Homo sapiens: one gene and its partner. The protein of the gene in region 1 purifies or fractionates together with the protein of each later gene. This does not show direct contact. Each region holds a gene or a part of one and is shown in the gene's direction. Other genes may lie near its edges.

Region 1 (3,824 bases):
ACAGGCGTGAGCCACCGCACCTGGCTGAGACTAGGTAATTTATAAAGGAAAGAGGTTTAATTTACTCAGTTCTGCAGGGTTGGGGAGGCCTCAGGAAACTTCCAATCATGGCCAAAGGGGAAGCAAAACACATCCTTCTTCACATCGCAGTAGCAAGGAGAAGGGCCAAGCAAAAAGGGAAAATCCCCGTATAAAACCTTCAGGTCTTGTGAGAGCTTGCTCATGATCACGATTTGGGTGGGAACACAGAGCCAAACCCTATCAGATACCAACTTTCCTAGCATTTGTGTGTTAACAGAAGTAGTCACTGTCCAGAATTTATAATGCTTATAAAAAATCTACACAGGCCTTTTTCATATACTGTTAAACCCTTAGATCTTGCTAAATATTTAGATATTTTAGTAATATCTAAAAAAGTATATATGATCTTAAAACATAAGATAAATAAACTACAAATATCTATTGATATATATTTCTTCAGTTTTTTCAATTATATTTTATAAGCATTTAAACTTGGATTATTTATATTTCAGGCACAAGTACTCTCAAGTTCATCAGGAATTCCAGGTCCTCCTGCAGCACCTCCATTGCCAGGTGTAGGGCCGCCTCCACCACCACCCGCGCCACCTCTACCCGGAGGAGCTCCTCTTCCTCCTCCACCACCTCCTTTACCTGGAATGATGGGGATACCACCACCACCCCCACCACCACTTTTATTTGGGGGACCTCCTCCACCACCACCCCTTGGAGGAGTTCCTCCTCCCCCAGGAATATCACTTAATCTACCTTATGGAATGAAGCAGAAAAAAATGTATAAACCTGAAGTGTCCATGAAGAGAATCAATTGGTCAAAGGTAATACTAAAACTAGAGTTTTTTTACTTTGTCTAGCTTTTGTTGATCATTGCTATGTGTACACATTGTATAATGTTTGAGAGTATGACTGCTGACTCTTTCCGTTCCTTTGTGGGTTCATCATTTTATGTCCATCTTTCAATTTAGGTTGTAGATAATTGGAAACTCTCCAGATAGTTTGACATTGTGAAGCAGGCAAAAGGAAAATCGAAGTGATGTAGAGAATAATATTTGAAATATACCAACAAATGACAAGCAATTTTGATTCTTTTAACATAGCTTTTCTTTAAAAATTTTTTATTGATATGTAATATTTGTACGTATTTATGGGGTACATATGATTTTTGCTACATGCATAGAATGTGTAATGATCAAGTCAGGGTATTTAGGATACCCATCACCTTTAACATTTGTCATTTGTTTGTGTTGAGAACATTCAGATCTTCTCTTCTAGTTATTTTGAAATATACAACATATTGTTAACTATGGTCACTTTACTGTGCTATCAAATGGTAGAACTTATTCCTTTTATCTAACTATATGTTCATACCCATTAACCTATCTCTCTTCACCCTCCCACCTCCCACACACACCCTTCCCAGTCTCTGGTAACTATCATTCTATTCTCTACCTTCATGATACTCACTTTTTAAGCTCCTATATATGAGTGAGAATATATGATATTTGTTTTTCTGTGTCCAGCTTTTTTCACTTAACATAGTGATCTCCAATTCCATACATATTGCTGCAAATGACAGGATTTCAGTCTTTTTTATAGTTGAATGGTATTCCATTATGTCTCAATACTATATTTTCTTTATCCATTCATCCGTTGATGGACACTTAGCTTGATTTCATATCTTGATTTCATATCTTTGCCATTGTGCCTAGTGCTGCAATAAACATGAGGGTGCAGGTATCTCTTTGATATACTGATTTCCTTTCCTTTGTATAAATACTCAGTGGTCAGATTACAGCATTATTGTATGGTAATCCTGTTATTTAGGAGCATTATTGTATGGTAATCCTATTATTTATATTTTTGAGAAATCTTTATAGTGTTTTCCATAATGGCTGTACTATTTACATTCCTAATAACAGTATATGAAAGTTCCCTTTTCTCCACATCTTTGCCAGCATTTTGTCTTTTTGATAATAGCTATTCTAACTGGCATAAGATGCCAGTAAGATACCTCACTGTGGTCTTGATTTGTATTTCCCTGGTGATTAATGATGTTGAGCACATTTTCATATATCTTGGCCATTTGTTTGTCTTCTTTTGAGAAATGTCTACTTAAATTATTTGTCTACTCTTTAATGTGATTATTTGTTTTGTTGCTATTGTTTGGGTTTCTTGTATTTTTTGGATATTAGTCCATTGTTGGATAGTTTGCAGATATTTTTTCCCATTCAACAGATTGTCTCTTTACTCTGTTAATTGTTCCCTTTTCTATGCGGAAGCGTTTTAGTTTAATATAATCTCACTTACCCATTTTTGTTTTTGTTTCCTGTGCTTTTCAGGTCTTAGCCACAAAATCTTTGCCTATATTAGTGTCCTGGAGCATTTGTCTTGTTTTCTTCTAGTAGTTTTATAGTCTCAGGTCTTATGCTTAAGTCTTTAATCAATGTTGAGTCCATTTTTATATATTGTGGGAGATATAGGTCAGGTTTAATTCTTTTGCAAATGGATGTCCAGTTTTCCTATCATCATTTATTGAAGAGGGTGTCCTTTCCCCATTGCATGTTCTTGGTACATTTGTGCCAAATCTGTTAGCTGTAAATATATGGATTTACTTCTGGGTTCTCTATTCTATTCCATTGGTGTATATATCTCTTTTTACATTAGTACCATGCTGTTTTGACTACTATAGCCTTGTAGTATATTTTGAAGTCAATGTCCTGCTTTGATCTTTTTGCTCAGGATTGCTTTGGCTATTCAGGCTCTTGTGTGGTTCCATATGAATTTTAGGATTATTTTTCCTATTTTTTGTGAAAAAATGTTAATGGTATTTTGATAGGGATTGCATTGAATCTGTAGATTGCTTTGAGTTGTATGGTCGTTTTAACAGTGTAAATTCCTTTATTCTATGAGCATTGTCTCTTTCCATTTGTTTGTGTCCTCTTTAATTTCTTTCATCAGTGTTTTGTAGTTTTTCTTATAAAGGTCTTTTACTTCTTTGGTTAAATTTATTCCTAGGTTTTTTATTTTTTTGTAGCTATTGTAAATGAGATTGCCTTTTTATTTTTTTTTCCAGCAAGTTTATTGTTCAGCTATAGAAACATTAATAAATTTTGTGTGTTGATTTTGTATCCTCCAACTTACTGAATTTATTAATTATATGAGTTTTTTGTGGGGTGTTTAGGTATCTCCAAATGTCAGATCATGTTGTCTGCAAAGAGGGACAATTTGATGTTGTCTTTTCCAATTTGGATGTCCTTTATTTCTTTGCTTGACTGATGGCTCTGGCTAGGACTTCCAGTACTATGTTGAATAGGAATGGTGAAAGTGAGCATCCTAGTCTTGTTCCAATTCTTAGAGGAAAGGCTTTCATGTTTTGTCCATTCAGTATGATGTTAGCAATGGCTTTGTCATATATGGCATTTATTATATGGAAGTATGTTCCCTCTCTGCCTAATTGTTGAGAGTTTTTATTGTGAAGGGATGTTACATTTTATCAAATGCTTTTTCTACATCTGTTGAGATAATTATATAGTTTTCATTTTTCATTCTTTTGCTGTGATGTATCACGTTTATTGAATGGCATATGTTAAACAATCCTGGCATTCATGGGGTATATCCCATTGATTATGATGTATTATCTTTTGGATGTGCTGTTGGATTCAGTTCCCTAGTATTTTGTTGAGGATGTTTATGCCTGTGTTCATCTGGGATATTCTTTAATTGTTGTGTCCTTGTTTGGTTTTCGTATTGGGGTAATGCTGGCCTCGTAGGATGAGTTAGGAAGAATT
Region 2 (3,824 bases), on another chromosome or scaffold:
GGACATCATTATCCACTTGTCCTGGCTGCCTTGCCCCCTTCTAACCATTTCATGCCCATTCTAGTGTGGGCTTCTGAGTGCTCATTTGGTTTTTCATATAGTTTTTAAATCAGTTGTTACTGTCAAGATGAAAACATATCACAGATGTTAGTAGCGCAGTGCTGAGTGCTTCTTAAACAGTATTAACTTACATGCTTGATGACCATGTGTTCTTGATTAACAAAGCCAACGCAAGTACAAAAAAAAATAAAAATTACAAGTTGTTCTTAAATTTAATGACATTTTGTAAGAACCCGTAAGGCATATTTTAAGGCCAGCATATTGCATGTGAACTCTTCCTGGCCCTTTCTCTGTGGTGTTATGAAATGAATGTCACCCTTTTCAGGGAAAAGTTTTCATTTACCGAGGGAAAGAGTATGAGCGCCGGGAAGATTTTGAGGCTCGGCTCTTAACTCAGTTTCCAAACGCCGAGAAAATGAAGACAACATCTCCACCAGGCGACGATATTAAAAACTCTCCTGGCCAGTGTATCCTTTAAGACAACCTCATCAACTCTGAAACCATGGTGATGCCATTCATTTGGGTGGTTGGGTGTGGTGGGGGGCCTCTCTCATGGTTGATGTCTATGCTGCCTTAGTGATCCTTAACCCCCTCACCTCAGATATTCAGTGCTTCACAGTGAAGCCCAAACTCGATCTGCCTCCTAAGTTTCACAGGCCAGTGTCAGAGCAGATTGTAAGGTAATAATCCCATTTTTCTTACCCAACGTGAGGGTTGTAAGAGGCTGTGTACAGATCTCTTGCTAATAATTCCACCTTTTAAAGGACGGACTTTGGCCATGGATTCGCTTTCCAAATGCTCTTTCTGTCCTCTTTGAAGAGCAAGGGAAGCTAATTATTTTCAGCATCCAAAAAAAGTGACAGGAGATGTTAATCCATGTGCTGGGAGCGTGCAAAGCCTATTCCTTTCCCAAAGTCAGCTGACAGCAAAAACCTAAGAGGGCAGTGGAGGCCGTCTGGTCTCCTTTATAGACCTGCCCTGTGGGGTACAATCCCCTAGGGAACTTCACAGCAGTGCACAAGTCCTGCCTGTTCCCAGCAAAGCCAAGTTCATACATGTGAGTGTGGCCTGAATGTTTGCATTTTAGAAGGCGGGAAATGGGATTTGCACATTTGCTCCTGGTGACACACAGGAGAACCCTTCAGCCTTACAGCACAGCAATTCCATAATGTAGGGTTATGAGGGGGCTTTTAAACCTCCTGAGTCAACTGTCCATATTTGAGTGAGATTTTCTGCCTGTCAGTTGTATCGCACCTGACTTAGCAATGGCATAGAAAGACCTGCTTTAGCAGATGTGTTTGATATTAAGACTTTTCTGTTCTGTTTGATCCATGTTCTGGTGAAAATATTAATCTCTTTGATGACCTCATATTCCTTAGGATCAGCTTCATTTTGCTTCCTGAAGTTTGGTGGTTTCTTTAACCTTTCATCGTTTCTTTGACCTTGCATCAGCAATAATGGGAAATAAACTGGGACCCTGTTTATTTACAAATGATTGCTCTCGCAAGGCATACATTTTAAGGGTTGCAACATTTTTTTTCAGAGGCCTTAAGCAAATAGTGACGCTTAGAGCCTTCTCAGATGCAGTAGTTTCTTTTGCTGTGGAAGCCTGCCTGCATTTCAGTGCAGGGGAGAAATCAGTCTCAGTCTCTCCACGCCCTGCCCTGTGCATGCGGAAAGCCTGCCTCGTACCCCGACCGCGGAGGCAGGTTACTTATGTTTCCTGTGTGTCACTCTTGGGGTGGTTGCAAAATCTGTGCTTTGTAGATCTGAAACTAAGGTATGTAATACTTTTTTAAAATAATAATAAACACATACGTTGAACACAAAAGCTTTTTTCTCTCTCCTTCGCTTCACCTTTCCTCTGTTTTTGCTCATTTCACTCTTACTCAGCTTCTGTTTTCCCTCGAGGGTTGGCAGGGACAGGGAAGAGGCAAAAACTCAAGTTAATTTTTCCACCTGCCAACATTTCCCTGGCTGGGAGAGGACACCAAGGCGATGGCTTCAGGTCAAGGTTAGGGACATTTTACAGGAGGCAGTGACATGTTCTAAGGCCAGACCCCGTGTCCAAAAGCAAATTGGCTATTTGCCGGGTTAAATATCTAATGATCTGTCTGTCTCTGTACAGTTTTTACAGGGTGAACGAGGTCCAGCGATTTGAATATTCTCGGCCAATCCGGAAGGGAGAGAAAAACCCAGACAATGAATTTGCGGTAAAAAACAAACAAACCACCAAACCAAACAACAAAAAATATCATTCCGCCACCAGTAGAACTGCCACTGGAGAAGCGTGGCCTCAGAGGCAGCCACGGAGCCATATTAAATGTCTTTGTGTATTATGTGCAGAAATCTTAATCTATTACCCCCTCCAAAGTTAGAAAAACTAATTGCCATTTCACTAACAATATGACTAAGGTCACTGAGATATTTAATAAGGAGACTGTGCCGTCCAAATGCCGGAGCTCCCATATGAGTAGCGCACTGCCTTCCCTGCGAGCCCCAGGTGAGAGAGCAGGTGCCTGTCATCTCTAGTTAAAAATGGACCCACCGAGTGCTGAGGTGCGGGGTGCTGACGTGGCTTTCTGCAGGTGACACAGCAGTCAGCACATGAACTGGATCTGGACCCGGGTGCTCATTCCTCATTCAGTATCCAGCACCTGAACTTCAGTGGAGCACAACACACAACTGCAGGGTTGACCCCAGCACTACTAGCAATACGGACCGGGTTATTCTCTGTGGTGGGGACCATCCAGTGCATCCAGGGATGTTTGGCAGCATCCCTGAACACTGCCTACTAGGTGCCAGTGCCACCACCCCAGTTGGGACAACCAATCAAAAAGATTTCCAGGCCAGGCATGGTGGCTCACACCTGTAATCCCAACACTTTGGGAGGCTGAGGCAGGTAGATCAAATTAGTTCAGGAGTTCGAGACCAGCCTGACCAACATGGTAAAACACTGTCTCTACTAAAAGTACAACATTAGCCGGGCGTGGTGGTGCACGCCTGTAATCCCAGCTATTTGGGAGGCTGAGGCGGGAGAATCGCTTGAACCCAGGAGGCAGAGGTTGCAGTGAGCCAAGATCGCTCCATTGCACTCCAGCCTGGGGAACGAGAGTGAAACTCCATCAAAAAAATAAAGTTTCCAGACATTGCAAAATAAAACATCTGCCCCTTGTTGCAAACCACGGCATTCGAGTTGTAGAAATAACAGCAAACATCTTTAGAGCCTTTTTTCTTTATTTTTTTATTTTTATTTGTTTATTTTTTTTGAGACAGAGCCTCGCTCTGTCGCCCAAGCTGGAATGCAGTGCCATGATCTCAGCTCACTGCAAGCTCCGCCTCCCAGGTTCACGCCATTCTCCTGCCTCACCCTCCCAAGTAGCTGGGACTACAGGTGCCCGCCACTACGCCCGGCTAATTTTTTGTATTTTTAGTAGAGACGGGGTTTCACGGTGTTAGCCAGAATGGTCTCGATCTCCTGACCTCGTGATCCCCCCGCCTCAGCCTCCCAAAGTGCTGGGATTACAGGCGTGAGCCACCGCGCCTGGCCCTAGAGCCTTTTAAAAATTCTACATACAAACTGCTTTCATGGATTCATTTGTATTTTTATTTTATTTATTTTTTTATATAGAGGTGGGGTCTATGTTGCTCAGGCTGGTCTTGAACTCCTGGGCTCAAGTGAGTGGATCCATGTTGAAAAGGCATCAAATAAGCCATAATTTTTTTAAAATGTTAATGTTTATCCGTCTTGCCTGGGAAACCTC

The links.
Region 2: the proteins of DIAPH2 (region 1) and DOCK1 fractionate together in Homo sapiens (co-fractionation; one large-scale study listed by BioGRID). This does not show direct contact.

Annotation. Positions count from the first base shown.
Region 1 is NC_000023.11:96,957,295-96,961,118, forward strand, and holds part of DIAPH2 (protein diaphanous homolog 2), read left to right. Parts: intron 1-533; coding exon 534-854; intron 855-3,824. UniProt on the Homo sapiens protein: Could be involved in oogenesis. Involved in the regulation of endosome dynamics.
Region 2 is NC_000010.11:127,408,652-127,412,475, forward strand, and holds part of DOCK1 (dedicator of cytokinesis protein 1), read left to right. Parts: intron 1-385; coding exon 386-527; intron 528-661; coding exon 662-740; intron 741-1,603; coding exon of another isoform or gene 1,604-1,765; intron 1,766-2,188; coding exon 2,189-2,273; intron 2,274-3,824. UniProt on the Homo sapiens protein: Involved in cytoskeletal rearrangements required for phagocytosis of apoptotic cells and cell motility. Along with DOCK1, mediates CRK/CRKL regulation of epithelial and endothelial cell spreading and migration on type IV collagen.